Linked DNA regions of Homo sapiens. The protein of the gene in region 3 interacts with the protein of the main gene of each other region in a pairwise test. Each region holds a gene or a part of one and is shown on either strand. Other genes may lie near its edges.

What was found. Proteins that work in one complex are often made in the same cells at the same time.
Region 1: the proteins of ZDHHC15 (region 3) and STX3 interact in binary tests that used the Homo sapiens proteins (3 or more experiments, as listed by UniProt).
Region 2: the proteins of ZDHHC15 (region 3) and DHRSX interact in binary tests that used the Homo sapiens proteins (3 or more experiments, as listed by UniProt).

What each region holds. Positions count from the first base shown.
Region 1 is NC_000011.10:59,785,231-59,793,863, reverse strand, and holds part of STX3 (syntaxin-3), read right to left. Parts: intron 6,828-8,633; coding exon 6,728-6,827; intron 4,992-6,727; coding exon 4,917-4,991; intron 3,346-4,916; coding exon 3,278-3,345; intron 1,758-3,277; coding exon 1,649-1,757; intron 766-1,648; coding exon 692-765; intron 485-691; coding exon 350-484; intron 1-349. UniProt on the Homo sapiens protein: Potentially involved in docking of synaptic vesicles at presynaptic active zones. Apical receptor involved in membrane fusion of apical vesicles.
Region 2 is NC_000023.11:2,218,518-2,226,121, forward strand, and holds the end of DHRSX (polyprenol dehydrogenase), read right to left. Parts: intron 2,713-7,604; coding exon 2,524-2,712; 3' UTR 989-2,523; downstream 1-988. UniProt on the Homo sapiens protein: Oxidoreductase that plays a key role in early steps of protein N-linked glycosylation by mediating two non-consecutive steps in dolichol biosynthesis.
Region 3 is NC_000023.11:75,367,348-75,374,091, forward strand, and holds the end of ZDHHC15 (palmitoyltransferase ZDHHC15), read right to left. Parts: intron 5,599-6,744; 3' UTR 1,080-5,598; downstream 1-1,079. UniProt on the Homo sapiens protein: Palmitoyltransferase that catalyzes the addition of palmitate onto various protein substrates.

The sequences.
Region 1 (8,633 bases), on a different chromosome or scaffold from region 3:
ACTGCACTCCAGCCTGTGCAACAGAGCAATACTCCATCTTAAAAAAAAAAAAAAAATCAAAAATCCAGGAAAACTGGGTACTTGACAGAACACATCAAACCCTGTATCAACTAGCAACGACTGCAAGGCCAAAGGGACAGGCAAGAATGACAAGGTTAAGATCACCCAAAGTGTCAACATTCAATTTGAATGCACACTTTCCCATGGGATTCTGTTTCTCCTTTATGCAAATTCCCAATGGTTCTCCCACCCTACCTCACTGGCTTCCAGTATTCCCTTTCTCCCTGTTCTCAGTAGACCCTGAGCTTTCCTCTCCTCCCTCCCCACGCTGGGACTCACTGCCACTTACCTGATTCTCCACCAGCATGGCGATGTCCATAAACATGTCGTGAAGCTCCTTGATGCTGCTCTCCAGCCTCACAATGTCCTTGTGTCGTCCCTCAATCTCACTGAGGGCTTGCTTGGAAATCTGTGAGTCAATGATCTACAACAGGCCACACACAGACTGTTAGCTACCCCTGCAAGAAAGGCTGCCCCTGCCACAGCCCTCATGCACGCTCCTGGGGAGCTCCTTGCCTCCCTGAACTCCCTGCACCTGCAGCTCCCCCTCCACCTGCTGGACTGCATGAGCTCCGCAGTGGCCTCCCTGCTCACGAGAGGGATGTGCTATCCGAGCACACAGGGCACTCACCCCAGAAGTGAAGATGGCCGGGTTGCCACTCTCCAACATCTCCTCCAGCTCCTCATCGGTTGTCTTTTTGCCAGCTTTGTAACAAAAGAAGTAGAGCGTCAAATATAAGATCACGGTGAAACACCATCTGATAAGGACCCTGAAAATTAGGAACGTGACTTCCCTATAAAGACCGTGGCCTTTACAACACTCCCCCAATTGCCTCCTGACTCATCTTATTTCTGCCCTAATCCAAGCCATCCTTAACACTATCAGCAGTTACCTTCCTAAAGCACTTATCTCATTACATTGCTTCCCAGCTCAGAACATTTCCTTGCCCCATTCACTACACTATGGTGTCCAAGGCCCTCATAACATGCTAGTTCATGGGCAAGCCCTCCCTCAATCCATCCTAACCTTATGCTACTCCAGACACACCCTTTCTCCAGACCCTAGACAACCTGCCACTCCTAAACACACTTGCTCTTTCTTGATTATGTTCATACCATTCCTCTCATCCAAAGCACCTTCCACTCCACGGGGCCCTGCCTTCCACATTACTACATTCCTAAAGGGTATGGCTTTATTTATTTCTCTAATCCTCCCAGCAACTTACACCATACTTTTATCCTCCCAGCAACTTACACCACACTTTTTATTTCTTAAATGTGCTTTGCTGTCAAACAGACAGCAAAATGATACAATGAGTCCACAAGAGAGCAACTGTTTGGCAAGCATTTCCCCTCTATATAGGAGACAATGCTGGACCCCATACAATAAAATTACTTGGGCCTGATAAACACGGTGTCACCTTTCAGCCTACAGCACAGCATTCGGGATGTGCCAGTGGTGCAGGAGCTGCCCTAGACTTAGGCACAAAATGTGCTTCCTGCTTGCTCCACCAGGGCCTCAAAACTTGGGATGGACAACCAGGTGGCAGGAAAGGTGGAGGGCACACGCCAAACCTCAAGTACATACTAATTTCGAGCTGCCGCTGGATTCGCCCTTTGCTGCGTTCTCGGAAGTCCACTTGAGCTTCATTGTATTTGGTCATCACCTCCACAAACTTCCGAGAAAGGACAGAGTGCTGTGGGATGATGTAAAATGCAGTCAGGCCCCAGTGGTTCTGTAACTGTTATAGAACCCCTCCCCACCCCCACATAGCCATCTACAATAGCACTGGACTTGGAATCAAAAAACCAGGTGTCAAACCAAGTTTTTTGTTTCCTAGCTTTGTGCCACTGGGAGAGTCCACTGCCCTTTCCAGAGCATGGTTTCAGCACCAGTTTACTGAAACCGGTTTACTGCTGACCTCACGTGGTAATTGCGAGGCCAGAGGTCATCTCTAAATCTCTGAGCCCTACATCCACATGGACTAGTAGCATTTTTCTGGCACAACACTTGGCTTGCATTCTAAAACTGTCAGATTCCCTTCCCACATGTCATACTTACCAAAGATCCTTGAGTTCTTACGCTAAACTCATCTCCCCAACTCTTCTTGCTTATAAGTAGATGCATTATCTCAACAGCCCTGCATGCCTAAGCTAAAACCTTCCTAATAATTTTTATTCCTTGCTCACCTCTCAGCATCAAGCCCTACTTACTGGTTTCTCCTTTGGAAAATCGCCAATATATATACTTTTTCCAAACCCACTACCACCATACAAATTTAGACCAAAACCCTTGCAAAAACCTAACTAGGGACCTTCCAGTTTCCTGCTTCTTTCCCACTTGTAAACGGCTTTCAAATGGCTACCATAATAATCCTCCTAATATACTGCCGCCTGAAGCAAATGCCTGTAAGTTATAACATCAGATCCAAATTCCCCAGACTGGTCCTCAAAGACCTCTAGAATGTGGCACTACATTATCTACTAAAAATTATGTGTCCACTATCCCACAGCAAACTTTTTTCTACAGAAAGCCTATTGTCTTCACGTCTGCCCCTTACGTCTACCCACCACCACTACCAACCACTGCTGCCAACACACACATATGTGCGTGCCTCACTCCTGCCCCTGTGCCTCTCAGAGAGGGGAAACTACTTCCTGAGGCTGCTCATGTTGGCACTCTGGCCCAGCCTCCTCTGGCTACCCCCCATTCTTCCTGAGATCTTTTGATGCTGAGAGCACCATGCATGTGTCTTCTTATCGCATCCTCCTGCTGGGTCGCATCCTCCTGCTGGGTCTTAGGTAATAGCTTTCCATGCCGCTTCAATGGCATGCCAGTTCTTTAAGGACAAGGATCCTATCTTTGATGACCCCTAAAGTGCCTAGCTCCAAACTGGACAACCAATGACTAACAATTGTTAGAAGACATTAATTTCCTCTCCTGTAAAACAAGAAGGCACGCTAAATCCTAAGCTGTGCTCTAGGAAGCCTGAAAAGCTCTTCAGGGGCCTCCTTAGAGAAGGAGAGTACAGGAGAGGAGCCAAAAGGGCTGGACTCTGGCCCTGACCCCTATTTCAACCTGGAGAGTTCTCCTTTACCAGGTCTTCAAATTGAGTTTCAAAATAAGGATTGTATTAAAAAAAAAAAATCCCTCCACAGTTAAGGGAAAACAATAAGAGATTGGACTAGCTAATCATGAGACCAGGAAAAGTCTTACCTGGGATTTCCGAATCCGAAGGTCTGCCGATGACCTGACCTCATCTTCTTCAATATGCTTCTCCATGCCTAAAGAGGAGAGGAAGGTTATACTTGCAACCTATCTCCGCCTCCAAGAAACATGCTATTCAGTGAAACTTCCTCACTCATTCCCACACATCCAGCCCACGGAGATGTAACAGGTAGGTGTCACCTCAAAAGGTCAGCTCCCAGATGAGCCACAGGACGTGCATTCCACAGCCTTTACGATGACCAGGTTTTGGCATAACAGTTAACAGCATGGGTTCTGGTCACCATGAGACTTAGGCTTGAATCCTTGCCCTGGCACTTACTGGGTGTGACTTTGAAAAAGCCACTTAACCCCTCTTAATGTACCTGTTCTCTCATCTGTAAAACAGAATAACAGTCCCTCCCTCACAATACTAATGTGAAGATTAAATGAGAAGACACATAAAGTGCCTAGCACAATGGCAGGTGCACTATCACTGTTATTACTGGAATCTGCTACTAATGACTCCTCCAGTTAAAATAGTTATTGCAATATACTTGGGGGGAAGAAATGGTAAATTGAGCTGAGCAATAATGCTTTCTCTTCTGATCAATAGCATGCATGCACCAAATACACTGGGCAAGAATGCAGGCTCTAGCAACAGAACTAAGTAAACCTTCTAGGCTCTGGAAGAACTGAATCTATGACAGTAGCTTCATTGAACTATACTCTCCCAAATGGGGGGAGTGAGGGTATGGGAAGGTGGTATGCCTAGCCCACCAAGAAATATCTGTAGACTGAATGATATCTCTTGCATTTATATATCTCTAAAATGACTATTCAAATGTATGTAGGTGGCCGGGCATTGTGGCTCAAACTTGGAATCCCAGCGATTTGGGAGGCCCAGGCAGGTGGATCACTTGAGGCCAGAAAAGTTCGAGACCAGCCTGGCCAACATGGCGAAACCTCGTCTCTACTAAAAATACAAAAATTGACTGAGCGTGGTGGTGCATGCCTGTAATCCCAACAACTTGGGAGGCTGAGGGATGAGAATCACTTGAACCCAAGAAGCAGAGATTGCAGTGAGCCAAAATTGAGCCACTGCCTTCTGGCCTGGGCAACAGAGCAAGATTCTGTCTTAAAAAAAAAAAAAAAAGTATGTAGTTGCCAGGGAAATAAGACCAATAAGAGAAAAGTTGATGGGCCAGGTGCGTCCCAGTTACTCAGGAGGCTGAGGCAGGAGAATCACCTGAACCCAGGAGGTAGAGGTTGCAATAAGCCGAGATCACACCACTGCACTCCAGCCTGGGGGACAGAGTGAGACTCCGTCTCAAAAAAAAAAAAAGAGAGACAAGTTGAAAGACTAAGTTAAAGGACCAAGTCACAAAACTACTCAGCAGCTGAAAGCACATTTTAATTCTCATCTCCTAGCTTCAATTCTGGACTCTTTCCAGTACAGTCAGGATTTAAGAAAAGGTAAATTTCTGGGGCTACAATGGATCATTGCGGGGACAGAGCCCAAACCACAAGCAAAGATGGACCAAGTGGTGTCACTTCCATCAAGAGGAGTTTCAGTTCGGAAAGCTGGACCCTAGGGGAGCTGAGATAGATGGTGGTGGGGACGGCCTTGTTTTCTTTGTTCCCTTCTTACTCTTCAGTTTGTTCCGGACGTTGTTGGCCCTTTTCTTAATCTCAGTCGTGAGCTGCTCTAGGTCATCCTTGGTTTCTGGGTAAATAAAGGCAGGCAGAATCCGTTAGAAAGGAGAGGACTGATTCCTTTGTGAACTACAGCAATCATCATCAGAGGAGGGGAGCTTTATCGGGCATCCACTGCCCAGAATGGTATTTATCCCTACGCACTCCCCAGCATCTGTCATTAGAATCACAGAGTGCTTATTTTTTTAAAGGCATTTTCCAGGCACCCCATCTCAGTCTACAGAATAAAAATACCCAGGGTTGGAACCACAAAATCAGCTCTTTCAACCCTCCTGAGTAATCCTGCAGCACATAAAATTGTGGAAACTCTGCTTTTAGAGGAAAGAGCCTACCACGGGAGCTTCGGTTGAGAAGGTTCTAGGGAGCTTATGGGGAAAATAGATTTCAACCAAGGCTAATCAACTTAAAATGAGGCAAATATTTATGACATACCTACTACACACATCCTAGGTTGTATGGAGCAAACTAAGTGTTAGCTATAACCATTCATTCAAAAGCCATCCTTCAGCCCCTACTACAACTTTGGAACAGAGCTAGAAACTATGGAATCAGAAAGAAGATCTAGATTTTTCCTGCAAGGTGTTAGAGTCTAGTGGGAGACAAAGGAGAAATAAATCAGCAGCTCTAATATGCAGCGTGGAGTAAGGTATGAGTTCTGGTCAAGGTGTGCACAGCCTGGAGGGATCTGGAAAAGCCTCTAAAGATGGAGATGAGCAGGACTGAGTCTCAAGGACTGTGAGTTGGCCAGGTAGAGAAAGAGACTAAAAGCAGGAATTCCACGAGAAGAAACAGTAAGTAAAGGGTATGAGTGAACAGGAAATGCCTGGGGAACCAGACAGAGTTGCTCTGGCTGAAGCGTGGGAAGCAGGAGGAGGATGGCAGGAGACAGGCTGGCTGGGAAGGCAGGAATGTGATCAAGACAATGCCCATATGCTCTGCTAAAGTGTTCCCACTTCAGTCTTTAGGTAAGAGGGCCCATGGGAAAAATGAAAGAGTGGAATGACAGTGTCAGGCTTGTTCCCTGTTCTTAAGGAACCAAAAATATAGCCCTAAACCACCCGTGTCCAAACCGTGGAACGCACGGATTTTTTTGCTTATCTGTAGTGGCAGATATCAGGAAAATTATGCACAAACCTTTCTTTCAGCGCTTCAGCTATCGTTAGTGTTAGTGTATTTTATGTATGGCCCAAGACAATTCTTCTTCCAATGTGGCCCAGGGAAGCCAAAAGGTTGGACACCCATGCAAACAATTAGGGGAGAAAAAACGTTTGCCTAGGTGGTGGTAACAAACAGGAGTTTAGGGATAGAAGGAATTTCTGTGAACTCGAACCATTTTGGAACACCTCATGGAAAGAAAAAATGGACTTGATCTGGTAGGATTCAGAAAGAGGGCTAGGAAAAGCAGTTCAGGCTGGGGAAATAGTACACGCAGAGGCTCAGAGGAGGGACAGGGCACAGGGTATGTAAGCAGCAGTGGGAATCGTCGCCAGTCAGGAAGAGGGACTAGCTGGGAAACAGGAAAGTCTAGCTAAATGGTTGGAGTGGGACCATGAAGACAAAACCTTGACTGTGGCCAGGCAGTAGGAGCTCAGGTAAGGTAAAGGGGAGGGAAATGAGATAATATGTACACTAGTGCCCTGTAACTTGTACACTTCCCTACTGCTCACGAAGGGCAAGAAAACAAGGCTGGCTCAGCTCCAAGGAAAGGGTGATTGTTGGATGACTCAGTTCTAAGTAAACACTCACTTGGCTCTGGAATCGGTGCAGAGAGAATGATACTGTAGAGTTTCTTAGCCTCCTCTACATGTTCTGAGATCTTGTCAATGTTAAGCCGAGTTTCCTCAATCTATAATCAGAAAGACAATAACCTTCATCATCAAAGAGGAAGTACAGGTCCATGGCTGAGATAAACGTTTGGCAGAGCTGCTGGTGAAAGCTGCCCATCTTCTGGGTTTGTGGAAGAAGATAATGACTTAAAGTCCTCAGCTGCCCAGTGAGTACCCTTTCCATGGTCAGATAAAGTAATCTCAACAGAACAGTTGTTAAAAATCCATACTTGTTGCTCCCTAAGAGTAATACATTCACCCACTTTGGATGAAAGGATTCAGGCCAAAGTCAAGAAGAGCTAAGAAAAACCATGAAGAATGATCAGAGGGGGAGAATCAGCAGACCTTAGCAGGCAGAGCCTTAAAGCCCAAAAAGTGAGAACAGAAAAGAGTGAGGATGAAGGAGAGGGGAAAAAGGAAGGAAGGAAAGAAAGAAGTGAAAGGAAAAGAACAAACCTAGAGAGTGAAAAACACAGAATGAGAGGAAGAGAAAGACAGAAACAGATAGGCCAGGCGCGGTGGTTCATGCCTGTAATCCCAGCACTTTGGGAGGCCGAGGCAGATGGATCATGAGGTCAGGAGATCAAGACCATCCTGGCTAACACAGTGAAACCCCGTCTCTACTAAAAAATGCAAAAAAAAAAAAAAAATTAGCCTGGTGTGATGGTGGGCGCCTGTAGTACCAGCTACTCGGGAGGCTGAGGCAGGAGAATGGCGTGAACCCGGGAGGTGGAGCTTGCAGTGAGCCGAGTTCGCACCACTGCACTCCAGCCTGGACGACACAGCGAGACTGCCTCAAAAAAAAAAAAAAAAGAAAGAAAGAAACAGATAAAGAAAACAAGGAGAGAAAAAGAGAGATACTAGGCAATGAAGGTCTCAGGAGACAGCCCAAGCTTCTCTAGGACACATATGTTCTTGTACTAACTGATTTCCTCAGACGATCAGGACCCAGTAGCTCGAGCCACAGCCCATTTCTGCATATTTCTAAGGCTCCTGATTGTACAAGGCTGTGAGTATCATAAAATATTTCCAGCAGCACTTCATTCCCAGGTAGAACGCCACTGTCAGACATTCCTGTGTGAGCTTTGACTGCAGCCTCAGCTCCCCGCTTCATAGGTGCCCATGCCACTGGTACCACAGCCCTGCTGCAGTGGAAGCCTATGTACAGGGAGCAGGGCAGGAAGGAGAGACCTCAGCACCTGTAGGGTCTATCTGCTTCACTCTCAAAGTGAAGGGCACATCAACATTGCAACAATTGACAAACAGAAATCTTGTAAAATGTCATACAGTAGGATCCTAACATCTGAGATGCAACAAAAATAAAACTCAATGCATATGCAGCTTCCAGCATCCCTCTTTTCCTGTGGACACTTCACCTTTTTCAAAACCTGATTATAGCTCTTCATATTCAATAGAAAATAGGAGAGGCCAGGCACAATGGCTCACACCTGTAATCCCAGCACTTTGAGAGGCCGAGGCAGGCAGATTACTTGAGCCCAGGAGTTCAAGATCAGCCTGGGTAACATGGCAAAACCCCGTCGCTACAAAAAATACAAAAATCAGCCAGGCATCGTGGCATGCCCCTGTAGTCCCAGCTACTCAGGGGGCTAAAACGGAGGATCCCTTGAGCCTGGGAGGTTGAAGCCACAGTGAGCCATGATCATGCCACTGCATTTCCCGCCTGAGCAACGGAGTGAGACTCTGTCTCAAAAACAAACAAAAAAAAAGGGAAAAGAAAGAAAATAGGAGAAACAATACTTGAGCTCTCTAGCCCTCAAATCAGTACTTTTGCCACTGGAGCACAGGATTTTCCCCTCTATAAATAT
Region 2 (7,604 bases), about 73 Mb from region 3:
CATAAATCTTGTTGCAAGTTTTCACCGTTGGGCTTCACGTCTCCCTGCAGCACCATGAATCCAGCTACACTAGGGAGGTGAATATCATGCATGTTTCCTGCAAGTTTCATTGTTCCTTGTAACCTCTGGCAACCTCTCCTTCCCGGAGGCTGTTTCCTGGCCTGTTAGTCTGGTTGTATCATTCATGGTTTTCCTATGAAGGGTCTCAGGATATAAGCAGACATTCTGCACAGAGACTGCATCTTTCTGCAGAAGGGGCTTGAGCTCATTCTTTCTGCACTGAGAGTCCTGGGTATTGAGGTCTGAGCTCTGCCCGAAACAGAAGCATACCGATTGTTAGGGTCACCCCAACCAGACCGTTCCCTTCCCCTTCCACAGGCCTTACAATACAGTCCCTTGCACTCTCCACACAGCTCCCCCAGGGCTAAAGACAAACGCCCCCCGCCTTCACTGACCCCTCCAGTAACTGTTTGTCCAGACAGTTACAGGATGTGGTTAGCATGTCTGTGAACCTTGCATAACAAAGCTGGTGAAAAACATCTCCAGGATGCGGTCAAGACACTTGCACCCCCTACTCAGCTCCCCCACCCCAACCCAATCCTCCTGCACCCTCGACTCAGCTCCCCCACCCCGACCTGGTTCTGGCCCTATAAAACCCTGCTATAGTCTGTAAGTGGGGCTGCCTCCACTAACTGTGGTGGAGCAGCCAAGCAGCTCAGTAAAGTTTGCTTGCCTGACTTTAGGTCTCCTCATCCTCTCTCTCGGCTGACCTTACACCGATGATGTAGTAAGCATCTAACGTGAATATCCCAGGGAACAAATCCACATTTCTTATCCTTTTGTACCAAGGAAGGTCCCCTGTCTAGTGGGTCCATGACATAAAATTCCTGGTTTTCTGTAAAGGAACAACAGAAATCCAGGCATCCTGGTTATCTACCAAGGAAAATCACCATCTGTGGTGACAAACCCATTCCCGGAGGATGAATGATTTTTTTTTTAAAGAGGCCAAACAATACATTTATTATTTTCATTTAAGTTGCTTATCAGGGCAACCTTCCCCATCTGGGAACAATCTAGCAGTCATGTAAGAAGCACATGCCCCCACAATTAGTTTGAACTCCATCCTGGAATTGCAGCTGGTTGTGATTCTAAGGTACAGGCATGCCAGGAGCCTGGATTTGAATAGTCAGTGGGATTTTGTCACTTAGTGGAATGGATAATAAGCCAACCAATGGTCATCAGTCTCACACATAAGGAGTGCAGGCTCGTAGGGTATACACAGTACTTTCTCAAAAGCATTGCAAATGACTGATTTCTCTATGTTGAAATTTGAAAACCCAACATCTATCTCTCTAACACCAAAGGATTGAGCCTTCCTTGCCTGGCTGGTGAGTAAGAGTGAGCCTCTATACCAAGGATGTACCCTTTGGCTGTGTGAGGTTTTCAGAAGTATCAGAAGCTGTATACATTTCCTGTGGTTGCTGTAACAAGTGACTACCAATTTGTTGGAGCCTTAAAACAAGAAAGATTTATTCTCTCTCCGTTCTGGGGACCAGAAGTCTAAAGTCAAGACGTCAGAGGGGCCAAGATTGCTCTGAGGGGTATAAGGGAGAATCCTTCCTGCCTGTCCCAGCTCCTGGTGGCTCCAGGCATTGCTTGGCTTGTGGTGGCATCACTCCAGTCTCTGTCTGCATCATCACACGAATATCTTGTCTTCTGTACTCAAATCTCCCTCTACCTGTCTCTGATAAGAACCCTCGTGATGGCATTAGGTTCACTGGGATGATCCATAATGACCCATCTCAAAATTCTTAATTCTATCTGCAAAGATTCTTTTCCAAATAAAGTAATATTTATAGGTTCTGAGGGTTAGGGCATGAACATATCTTTTGAGGGCTACCATTTGATCCATAGCTGTTCAGCGGTTTACATTCTCGGATTTGACAGTGGCATGCTTCACTTGTGACTGTGCCATTCTGGAATGAGGTTGACCAGATGGTGCTGCTGGCCACGTCAAACTCATCCTACAGGCTGTAGCAAGCAAGGCTCACACCTCCCCATGTCTGACACCTGTGAATCACAGCTGGGTCTCTGGAAAAATGAGTGAGTGCAGGAACAAAATCAAACAGGAGACCTCATCCACCACTAGGTCTCAGAGAGGACATTGCAGCCCCTGAAAAGAGAGCATCTCTCTTGGAACTTTTGTACTCAGTTGTATTAACGCGGCAAGGAAAATGGCACATTTATGTTGGAAAATGTAATTATTTATGGCACCTGTGACAACTGGGCACTTTGGAATCACAAAGTTTATGGTTGAAGACCACTTGGGGTGATTATCCTCCAAAATGTTTATTTGGCTTCTTGAAGTTCTGCAGAGGTTGAGGCAGCTGTCTCAAAACTAGAGGACAGAGCCCTGTGGGCAGGTGGGTGTGAGAAACTCAAACACCGCAGTCTTCACAGACCCACAAGCTATTGGCAGGTGCAATGTGTTTCTTGGGGCAGCAGCTATCCTGAGACAGGATATCACAGGGTCACATCAAGGACCCCAGTCATCTCACAACTCTTAGACCACAGCTGCTGCTGCAGTTTCTGGTTGTAGGTGACGTGGAGGGACTTGGTCTCTTTCTCGTTGTATAGGTAATGGCCACCAACTCCTTCCAGCTCTGGGGTGACTGCTGCGTAGATGGAAGTCCACGCTCCTTCATCGGGGGTCTGGTGGAAGAAGAAAAGAAGGCTACGATGAGTCAAATTTCTGAGCAGGAAACAGGAGTCTCAGGACTCACATGGATGCTGCAGGGACAGGTGGAATATACTCATCAGCTGCACTGAGAAATGTATGCAAAAAGCGAGGTTGGGTGATCAATCTGAACCACAGCTTTTCTGCTGTTGGGTTTCTTTACAACAGGCACTGACAATAACGTACCCAAGTGGGTTGCATTTCAGTGGTGGGTTAATCCATCTCACTAGGCAGATGCATATTAAAATCCCTGATGTACGTATTTAATCACGCACTCTTTATGGGACCGAAATGCTTATTAATTGACTAGAAGCAGATGAGTGAGTGCTTGGCTTCTGTATTTAATAAACAATATTTAGCAATTAGATGAAACATCAGGACATCAAAAAGATTCTTGTTTTCAATTCAGCAAGGCATGCTACATCGGAGAATTGAGGCATTTATGAGCTGTGATCGTATGTTTCATGGAAACAGACGTTTCAAAAAGGAACTTGAGATGCAGAAAAAGGTTTTTCAAAGACTGGGGATTTTACCCTAGTGGAAGGCGATAATCTTGAAACACAGCACACCCTGGTTTTCTGCAGTGGGAGTTGGCCCTTGGTCATGGTCAGTGGGATGGAAGAAATGTAGGATTCTCAGAGGAATTAGAAGTTGTGGGACCTGAGAACCTTCAGAGCTAGGATGCAATAATCCAGGAACCAACACAGTGCATCTTAACTTCTGTCACAATGAAGATGTTTCAGAAGTTGTCTCTTGTAATAAGCTTCTGGGAATCTGGTGAACGTATCCACCATGTGGGGACACAGTAATGAGGCACCGTCTGTGAACCAGAAAGCAGGTCCCTTCCAGACACAGAATCTGCCATGCATTGATCTTGAACTTCCAGCCTCCAGAACTGTGAGCAACAAATGTTTACCGGTTGCCCAGCCTATGTTGTTTTGTGATAGCAACACAAACAGACTAAGACATTTGATGTCCAGAGTTTTTACTGGGGTCTCATTGCATAGGTATGATTAAGTCATTGGCCACATAATCAGATTCAACCTCCAGTTCCTCTTTCCTCCCCAGAGGTCAGGCTGGCCTGAAATTCCAACCTCCTAATGACATGGTTGGTGTTTCTGGTGGCCAGCCCCATCTTGAAGCCATTTAGGAAACAGCAAATATCACCTCATTATACAACCAGGGAATTGCTAGCATTTGTGAAATTGCGAGAGTTTTAGAAGCTCCTCCTTGTTACAGAACCAGGAATAAAGACCAGATATTGCCTTTGTTATGTCCCCTCTAGTCTTCTGGGAGTGATGATCCATTTGCCCGAACTGATTTCACCTCTCACCAGTGCCCCTAGCACTGCAGTGGCTCAGGCCTGTAATCCCAGTGCTTTGGGAGAACAAGGCAGGAGGACTGCTTGAGTCCAGGAGTTCAAGATGAGTGTGGGCCACATGGCAAAACCTAGCACTGGTGAGAGTTCAGGCACACACCCTCCAAAAAGGAAAAGGGTGGACTCTGTGGGGTGGCCTGTGACACCCAGTCACTTCAGAAATTCTGCTGCTGTCAGTTCACTGCCTCCTGGTCTTGACTTCAGCAGCCAGTGTGACGTGGAAAGGCATGGTAGACAATCCAGTGTGCCCACCAGCCCATCCTCTGGGTGCCGAGCAAGGGGAACAGGAAGGCTGGACCCCAGTAGAGGAACAGAGCTGCCAGACTCCTGAGATTGTTTCCCACTGACTTGCCTCTGCTCTTCTGCTGCCTAAAAAGAAATGGATGGAGCTAGAGAACTTCCCAAGTCTGGAAATCACCTAGGGGTGCCCAGAGATCTTGCAAACCCAAAGTGTCCTGGGAGATTTGGAGGCTGATACGGTTTGGCTGTGTCCCCACCCAAATTTCATCTTGAACTGTAGCTCCCATAATTCCCATGTGTCAAGGGAGGGAGCCAGTGGGAGGTAATTGAATCATGGGAGATCTTTCTCGTGCTGTTCTCATGATAATGAATAAGTCCCATGACATCTGATGGTTTTATAAAAGGCCGCTCCCCTGCACACACTCTCTTGCCTGCTGCCATGTAAGACATGCCTTTGCTCCTCCTTCACCTTCCGCCATGATTGTCAGGCCTCCCCAGCCACATGGAACTGAGTCCATTAAGCCTCTTTCCTCTATAAATCACCCAGTCTTGGGCATGTCTTTATTAGCAGCATGAGAACAGACTAATAGAGAGACTGTATCTGAAAACATCTCGGGGGCGGATGCAGGCGCCATGGCTTGGCTCTTGCAGGGGAGCCCTGTGTCCCGTGTCTTGCCCTGGGCATCTAAAGACCAAAAGTAAAGGCGAAAGGGATGGAAAGAGGAAGGGAGGAAGGACAGAACAGAGCAGGAGGAAAGGGAGAGGGAAGGCAGGGGCCAAGTGAAGGCACCCATGGTGTTTGAGGGTCTTTCTCTGGGGCAGCCTTCAACGCAGAAAGAGGTTTTATTGATCTGTTTCATGCTTCTCTCTTTTGCGGCTGTGTTCTGCCCAATTTCCAGGCAGGATCTGCTCCCAAAGCCGGCATTCTTCTTCCTTCTCCATCATCTTGTAGCTGGAAAATACGGAGTCTTTCTGGGGCCCAGCCCACTTCCATATAAAAGGCAGGGACACCAAGCACTGCAGCTGTGAATCCAACATGGTGCCCCTTCCCACACTGCTGCTCTGGACAAAGTGATCAGAGAGGCCAGATGGGGGCCACCCTGGGTCCCCAGGAGAGACCATGGTTCCTGCTGCGCAGAAATGAGCATTTACACCTCACGCTGGTGCCTGAGATGTTCACCCACACTGTGTTATATTTAGTGCTGTGCCTTCTTTGCAAACAAATCCTTAAATCAGCTCCTGGAACAAGTTTTGTGTTGTTGTCTGCCATCATTGACACTGAGGATTCAGGGGCTCATGCCCCAAATACCCGACCTGTGTCTTGACCATGTAGTATGATGCCTCCACCCGGAGAGGCCCCTGTGTTCTGCAGCTGCAGCTTAGGCCGCTCCTGGGTTCTCCTGCATCGTCCCTATTGTTGAACAAACTCAGCACTCTCTGGAAGGAGGCTTCCTCTTTGTGGTTCCCCTGTGGGCAGTGTCTGGGGGCTTCTGTTTCTACCATATTTTGAAAAATCCTCTTATCTGAGTAAGAGTTCTTGGGCTATGCATATTCAATTGCGACACAAGTACTACCGTTTTAGGGGGCAAGATACCACCTGTGCTATGTTGAAAATGAGCTTGTGATTTCTAGAAGACAGCAAGCGCATTGTGCTGAAAATGTAGGTATTTCTGGGGACACAGAGATGACGACGTGATGAAGTTCTATTGGATGATTTTTTTTCTGTAAGAAAAACACACGCACACACATATTCATGTGCGCATGGTCACTTACATGCTGACATGCACACATACATTCGTATGTACTCACATGCACACAAATATATATACACATATGGACACACACATACTCATGCATACGCACACACACATGCACACTTACTTGCACATGCATACTCACACTCATTCACATGCACACATGCTCATTTACATGTACACAAACTCACATGAACACATGCTCACATATACTCATTCACATGCACACAAATTCGCATGCACACAGCTCACACGCACACATGCTCACACTCGCACACACACACGTACACACACATTCACATGCACTCATTCACATGTACACAGCTCACACACATGCTCACATTCACATGCACACTAATTCACATGCACACACACATGCTCACACTCATTCACATGCACACAGCTCACATTCACACATGCATTCACATTTACATATTCACATGCACTCACATGCTCACTCATTCACATGCACACAGCTCACACACATGCACACACTCATTCACATGCACTCATTCACATGTACACACATTCACATGCACTCACACACGCACACAGCTCACACATGCACACATTTGCATGCACATTCACATGTACACACATTCACATGCAGTCACACATGCTCACACTCATTCACATGCACACAGCTCACACACATGCACTTTCACATGTACACACATTCACATGCACACATACACATGCACGCACCCTCATTCACAAGTACGCACATACACATGCACACATGCTCACACTCATTCACATGCACACATGCTCATCCACGTGTACATTCACATACTCATTCACATGCATACTTATACACATGCAAACATGCTTATATATTCATTTGCATGCACACACTCATACACATGCACAGATTATTTATCCTAATATTGCAAAATATGAAACCAAGGAGAGAGGCCTCAGGAGGAACCAGCCCTGCCCACACCTTGATCTTAGACCTCCAGCCTCCAGGACTGTGGGAGAATCAATGTATGTCGTTTCTAAGCCACCCAGTCTATGGTATTCTGTGACAGCAGCCAGAACTGGACTAAGACATGTCATAAGAAAAGGAGATGAGGACACAGACACACACAGAGGGACAACCCTGTGAGGACACAGGGAAAAGACGGCGTCTCCAAGCCCAGGAGAGAGACCTCAGGAGGAACCAGCCCTGCCCACACCTTGATGTCAGACTTCCAGCCTCCAGGACTGTGGGAGAGTCAACGTCTGTTGTTTATAAGCCACCCAGTCTATGGTATTCTGTGATAGCAGCCTGAAATGGACTGAGACAGCTCATAAGAAGAGGAGATGAGGAGAAAACAGACATGCACAGAGGGACGACCCTGTGAGGACACAGTGAGAAGACAGCATCTACAACCCAAGGAGAGAGGCCTCGGGAGGAGCCCGCCCAGCCCACACCTTCATCTTGGACTTCCAGCCTCCAGGACGGTGGGAAAATCAGTGTCTGTTGTCTAAGCTGCCCAGTCTATGGGACGTC
Region 3 (6,744 bases):
GTCTTTACCTAGGACAAAGTAAGTACTTTTTTTAAAAAAAATAAGCTTGGCTGGAATAAAAGATTTTTTTCTGGTTTTGTGTTAAGCCTGACATCTATGGGTTGGGCTTCTTTTAAGTGATTCAAGTTCTCCATTATTAATTGGTCAGAAAGTCAGCAATGACTGTTCCAAACTTCAGTTTTCAATGCTCTGCATTTTGAATGACTTCTGCCTTCCTGGTTGGCTAATTGGGGGCTTTCTCCATTCTGTCTGAAAAAGGACTTTTCCTGCAAATGGTGCATCAATTGAGGGAAACCTTATCTGGGGCTTACCTTAATGAGGGTCTCCTCAAATATTTCTCTGAGGGTAATGTATGAGTTAGGAGTAAGTGGGCTACTGTGTTTCTTTTTTAGTGTGTTTTGTTTATACTTATTTTAACTTTTAAATTCAGAGGTACATGTGTAGGTTTGTTATATAGGTAAACTTGTGTCATGGGAGTTCGTTGTACAGATTATTTCATCACCCAGGTATTAAGCCTAGTACCCATTAGTTATTTTTTCTGGTTCTCTCCCTCCTCCCACCCTTCACCCTCTGATAGGTCCCAGTGTCTGTTGTTCCCCTCTATGTATCTTTTTTCAGGTGACATGCATCTGGAGAATAGTACACATAGCCTTCAGTGTAAGAAAAAGCAAACCAGAGTTCACTTCACCCTTAGGCACATAAGAAAAGTTCTTTCTTTTTCCTTTCATCACAATGGCAGAGTGAAAGGCAAAAGATGTGTGAGGCTGAGTAGAGACTGAATGTGATTAAGTGTCACTAGACTGGTCAGCTTTCTATCTAAAAGCCATTGCAGCTAATTTCCCAATTCATATTCATGTAGGAACATAAGACAGAAATACCGAACACATGGAAGGGGCTGTTCAGAAGGTGAGATGTTACAGAGAAGTCTACATACCACGCATACCAATCAACCTGAGTGAACAAACATCACTATACCCCTATGAAATTAGATGTATAGAAACTTCCTTAGAGTAGTCTGAAACTTTAGGGTTTGTCAACATTGTTTAACAAAGCCACAATTTAGGAAAAAAAACCAACAATTATATGCATATACTTTTAATGAAGGATATAGGAAGATAAAGCTGGCCAGCATTTGTCAATATTTCTGCACCAAGACACATGGTTTTAAGAATACTATATACAATCATTTTGAGCAGATTGGTGGGAAAAATAATTGTAGCAGATTGGCAACCTATGCTTAACTTCTGAGGTCTCCTTTTCTGGCACTCTAATATAGTTCATATATTACCAAGACCCACTGCCAGCTTTCCTTTTATGTTCCTTCACTGATTAAGCCAGCAGAGTGAAAGTAATTATTCCTTGAATGCATCTTATCTAATTTTTTTTTCCTTTAATGCCATTCCCTACTAACAATCTATTTCCTGGTATATTGAATTCATTGTTGGTTTTAACTCATTCTGCTGATGGCTGTGTACCATCCTGCTACAAAGAACACATTTAATGGTTTTGAACACTGTGCAGGACACAGACCTAACCCTTTTAGGGAAGTAAACAGTCATGGGTTGCATGCTACTAGGAGCCACCCATTCATTATTATATAATACCCGCATGCAAAAGGCTACAATTTAATATGGTACATTACAGCTATGGTTAAAGAAATGCAGATGTACCATACCTCATCAACCAATTCCTAACGAGATGGAACTCATTAATTTTCTAAGAATATGGATCTTGTCCAAGGGCCTGACAATCTCATTAGATGCCCCCTGTGCTTCTCCATAGAACGTCTTCTGTACCGAATCTCTTAGCTACTCTGAGAGCAGAGATTCTGGAATGTATAAATCTAATGTTCTTCACATGCTGTGTTTCTTAGACTCTTTTTCTAAAAGGAGAAAACAGATAATCATTCTTTTAAATTAAAGTATTTGCTCCTGCTGAAGAGGCAGCCTGCTTTGGAGAAAATGTGTATGTGTGTGTGTGTGTGTGTGTGTGTGTGTGTACATGTGCATACATGTATGTAGATATGTGTGATGAGAGGTGAAAAGAATAGGCTTTCAATGACTGTTACATTCCTATGAATTTGGGCCCTGTTAAATTAATTTTAGGTTCATGTTACAATAATGTATAATATTCAGTATTCTTAAAACTTACTTGCTAGGATTGTGCTTAAATCTCCATTAACCTCAATGTCTATACTTTGTGCAATTTGGTATAAACATGGAGTGCATTCTTTACCTTGGCAATGTCTGCCCTGAGATTGGGCTCTATGGTGCCACAGGAGGTAATGGCACTGGTTGATGCCACATAGTGTGAAAAATATGTGTCACATGGGGCTAGTAGGGGAAAGAGGCACATATTGCATTCTTATCACATAGAAAGTAAGAGTTGTACAAATTGCATACTTTTCAGATTTTTGACAAAATGTGACTCTTTCAGAATGTGATCCTGTTGTAATTACTCTCAAAATTCTAACTGCTCCATGATAATTCCAGTCCTGGGAAGCCAAGTTACTTTAACAATGTACTGAACATGGTAACTGTGAGCCCTGCATAAGACAGCTGTGTTCCATTGGGGACCACTTAATCTCTTTTCCCCTTAATTTTTCCAGCTGTACCATGGGGAACAATTTTTTTATTCTGTCTCTTTCTGAGGACGCTGTTGGAGTGAATGGAAGAACATTAACAAAGTGCTCTAAGTCCTGCAAGAACAAATCAGCAATGAGAGCATGGACAAAAGAATGGAGTACATTATTTTGCTTAGAAATACTGTATGGTTAAGCTTTTCATTCCAGTCCTATAATTAAAGACATATAAGAGCACTAGAAAGTGACATAGCACCCTTCAGCAGTAGGATCCTAACAATGAGTATCTTCATTTTGCAAACGGAGAAAATGAGTATCAACAATTAGGGAATGAGATTCCACAGAGGTTATTGGACAGGGATCCAAAGAAAAGCAAGCAAAGAAGCCAGATCAGGGTGTGCTAATTATTAAATAAAGTTCTGTATTCTTGATTAATAATCAACCAGTTGGGTACCTATGTACATTAGTCAATACTCAAATGATCCATGGATAGGGATATTATCAGAGTCTATAAACCAATGAGACCAAAATGCTAAGATAGGAATAGGTTTTCTTTTTATCTCTGAGCCCCTGGTAAAACCCTGATTTATTTGGCTTTTTTTTTTTTTTTTTTTTTTTTTGAGACAGAGTTTCACTCTTATTGCCCAGGCCGGAGTGCAATGGCACGATCTCAGCTCACCACAACCTCTACCTCCCAGGTTCAAGCGATTCTCCTGCCTCAGCCTCCTGAGTAGCTGGGATTACAGTCATGCACCAACACTCCTGGCTAATTTTTGTATTTTTAGTAGAGACAGGGTTTCTCCATGTTGGTCAGGCTGGTCTTGAACTCCCGACCTCAGGTGGTCCGGCCGCCTTGGGCTCCCAAAATGTTGGGATTACAGGTGTGAGCCACTGCGCCCAGCCTTATTTGGCCTTTTAAAGACAGTGTAAATCTGTAAGACATTAAACAATCAGCTTTGCATTACATCTTTCCTGAGCTTTACCTCTCCGGAACTTCCTTATAGTTAACTGACACTATATTTTGTGACTTGACTTCTGTGGGAGCTGAGTGCTGATACACCCTATGCATCAAAGAAGTTCTTGATGTTTTTCTGACTTTGAATCACAGTTAACAGCTGCTCTGCCTGAATGCTTGGCAGAAGATGATTGATGGGAAAGAGGAAGATTACTTTGAGGCCTACTTGCTGTGTAGTAAGTAAAGGCCATACATGTAGAAAAAGGTGCATATCTATATGAATAGAAGACAAGGCTTGTCTGTCATAAAACCATGGGAATGGCCAAATAAGGTTTCAGGAAAAACCGAAATGAGAGTATTTTGAGAAAGAGTGTAAGGGGAAATTTTTTTCCATCTGAATATATAAGAAGATTTCATCTTGAAACCCAGTGTGTGCATAGTCATCTAGGCTGCTTTTTAGCTTCTGAGTTTGAGAAAGTCACTAGCCCTAATAAGTGTAGTCATGTCTAGTATTCTCTCAAATGTAATGCTGACCACAATCCATTTAATTTATGCCAAAAGTCTCACCTTGGTCAAAATTACCTAGGGATCCAGATGAACAGGTTTTGTTGTTGCTTTAAGTAGCTGGATTGTTCACTTTCTCAGCTCCACTGGAACCCCAACACTAAATTGTGGCAGGCAACTCTTTTTTACTCAAACATATTTCAGGGAAGATAAATTAGTAAGCCAAACCATCCCTCTAGAAGCTCAATTCCTTGATACCTGTAAGATGCTTCTAAATTCCACTGATCTCTAAAAGAGTTGGAGCTTTTATTGTCAGCAGCTGGGCACTAGACTGCTGGATGAAAAAATGAAAGATATCAATACTCTTAAGATATTATTATTGTAAAGAATCAGTACTAGTATTCTCACTCATTGATTCAGGCACTAGGACTAAAAGAAAGGCTGATTATAAATAAATGGGGAAATTGATGCAAACTGTATTAATGGCTTAGCTACTACTGAAGCTAAAAAAAGAAGAAAGAACTGGCATATTACTATTTGGTTATCACTGTCTGTACAATAGCCCCTGCTATGAAAACACAGCTCTTTAGTGCTAATCCTCAGGCTAATGTCAGCTGTGAAACTTTACCCTTATGAAAGGCAGTGAAATTAAACCTGAAAATCACTCTGAAAACCCTTAACAAAACCTATGGGCCATAACTTAGGCTTATAGATTTTCTTTCATCATAAAATAACTCATAAAGGCTAAAATAAAACTAGGAAGCAGATAAATGAATAAAAGTAATTGGAGAATTTTACTGCACCCTGACAAAAAAGTCTTTAAAAAACACTGGTTATTATGTTCAATAAAGTTTATGTCCTGAATTTGATCTTCTTGAGTAGCTGTGGTGCTTTCAGGAACATTTGTGACAGAACAGGTTTTACATTGTTGTTCAAATTCCAATTTGAGGACCTTGGTCACAGTGTACTGATTCACCCTCCCAAATTTTAGATACTTGATATAGCGATGATTCAAAGTCTAGCAAATATTTAAGTTGCTATTTAGAGGAAAAGCATAATTAAACAAAGGCTTCAGGTTTTTAGCCCTGATTTTCACACTATAGCAGAATTTTGTATAGATATGCTGTACGTGTTCACAAATGCACACGCACACAAGCAGCAAATGTAGTTTGATTCCCTTCAACACCAAAAAGGCCCTATATATGTGATTAATAATCTTTGTGGGGGAATTAAAGACTCTAAGGAAATTTTCTGAATTTCCTTTTACCTGATAAGATGAATGAAAAGATATATTTTACATTTAGGCTTTCATGGATTGGGGGAGGGGAAATGAAGAAACAAAAAAAATTGGCTTGAATTAACTGCTACCAAATTCCAAATTGGATTTCAGTCAGTAAATTAAATAACATAAAGTCCAGAAACATTTACACAGCAAGTATTTGATGGAATTCTTTCAAATTTTGAAGCTTTCAATCCAACACGGTGACTTATTTTGAAGATTACAATGATTTCCAACATTGAACTCTGTAAGCCTCATGGGAGGCAGAGATGGTGAGTCCTGGGAATGAAGAGAAGAAATTCACAGATGAGCTGAACAACTGTAAATATTCATGTGGTAACACCCACTTGACAATAATATGCAACCATTAAAATTACATTTATGAAGAGTATAGATCAGCACTGAAAAATGTTAAGTGAAAAAGGCAGGATATAAAATTATATATACAATGCTATATTTTTGACCCCCAAAATTACATTTGGAATAAGAGACTGAGGAAATACACTGAACTATTGAAAGTGGTGGATTCATGGGTAATTTGTTTTCATTTCTCTACCTTCTACTTGCATTTTCCACATTTTCTTTAGTAAATATATAATTTGATACTTCAAAAATACTATTTTTGAAATCCACATGGAAATAACAAGAGCTTTGAAATTGGGCAATTATGAAGCTGAATTCTAGCTTTGCCTCTTATCTCCATAACTCTAGAAAAATAATGTCAATGGATCCTAGTTTACTCATCTGTAAAACTGGTATAATATAATCTTCCTGAAACAATATCTGGCATATAGTAGGCCCTCAAGTAGCTATTTGTTTAAGCTTTCCGGAAAATGATTTGGCCTTATCCATTGACCCTTTAAAAAATTCATACCAGTAATTTTGCTTCCAGGATTCTATCCTATGGAAATGATTATAAATGAGGAGAAAGATTTATGTTTAGTGATATTATTCACAACATTATGATGATGGAAAATTGGATAACATATCTTATTAAATTTATTTTTATTTTTAATTTTTATGGGTACATAGTAGGTATATATATATTTATGTATTACATGAGATATTTTGATACATGCATGCAATGCATAATCATCACATTTTGGTAAATGAGGTATCCATCACCTCAAGCATTTATCCTTTGTGTTACCAACAATCCAGTTATACTTTTATAGTTATTTTAAAATGTACAATTAAATTATTTTTGACTATAGTTACCCTGTTGCCCTAGCAAATACTAGGTCTTATTCATTCTTTCTGTTTTTTTTTTTTTTTTTTTTTTGTAGCCATTAACAATCCCCAATTCCCCTCCAGCACTCACCCCTCCACTACCCTTCCCAGCCTCTGGTAATCATCATTCTACTCTCTAACTCCATGAGTTCAATTGTTTTAATTTTTAGCTTCCACAGATAAGTGGACATAGAT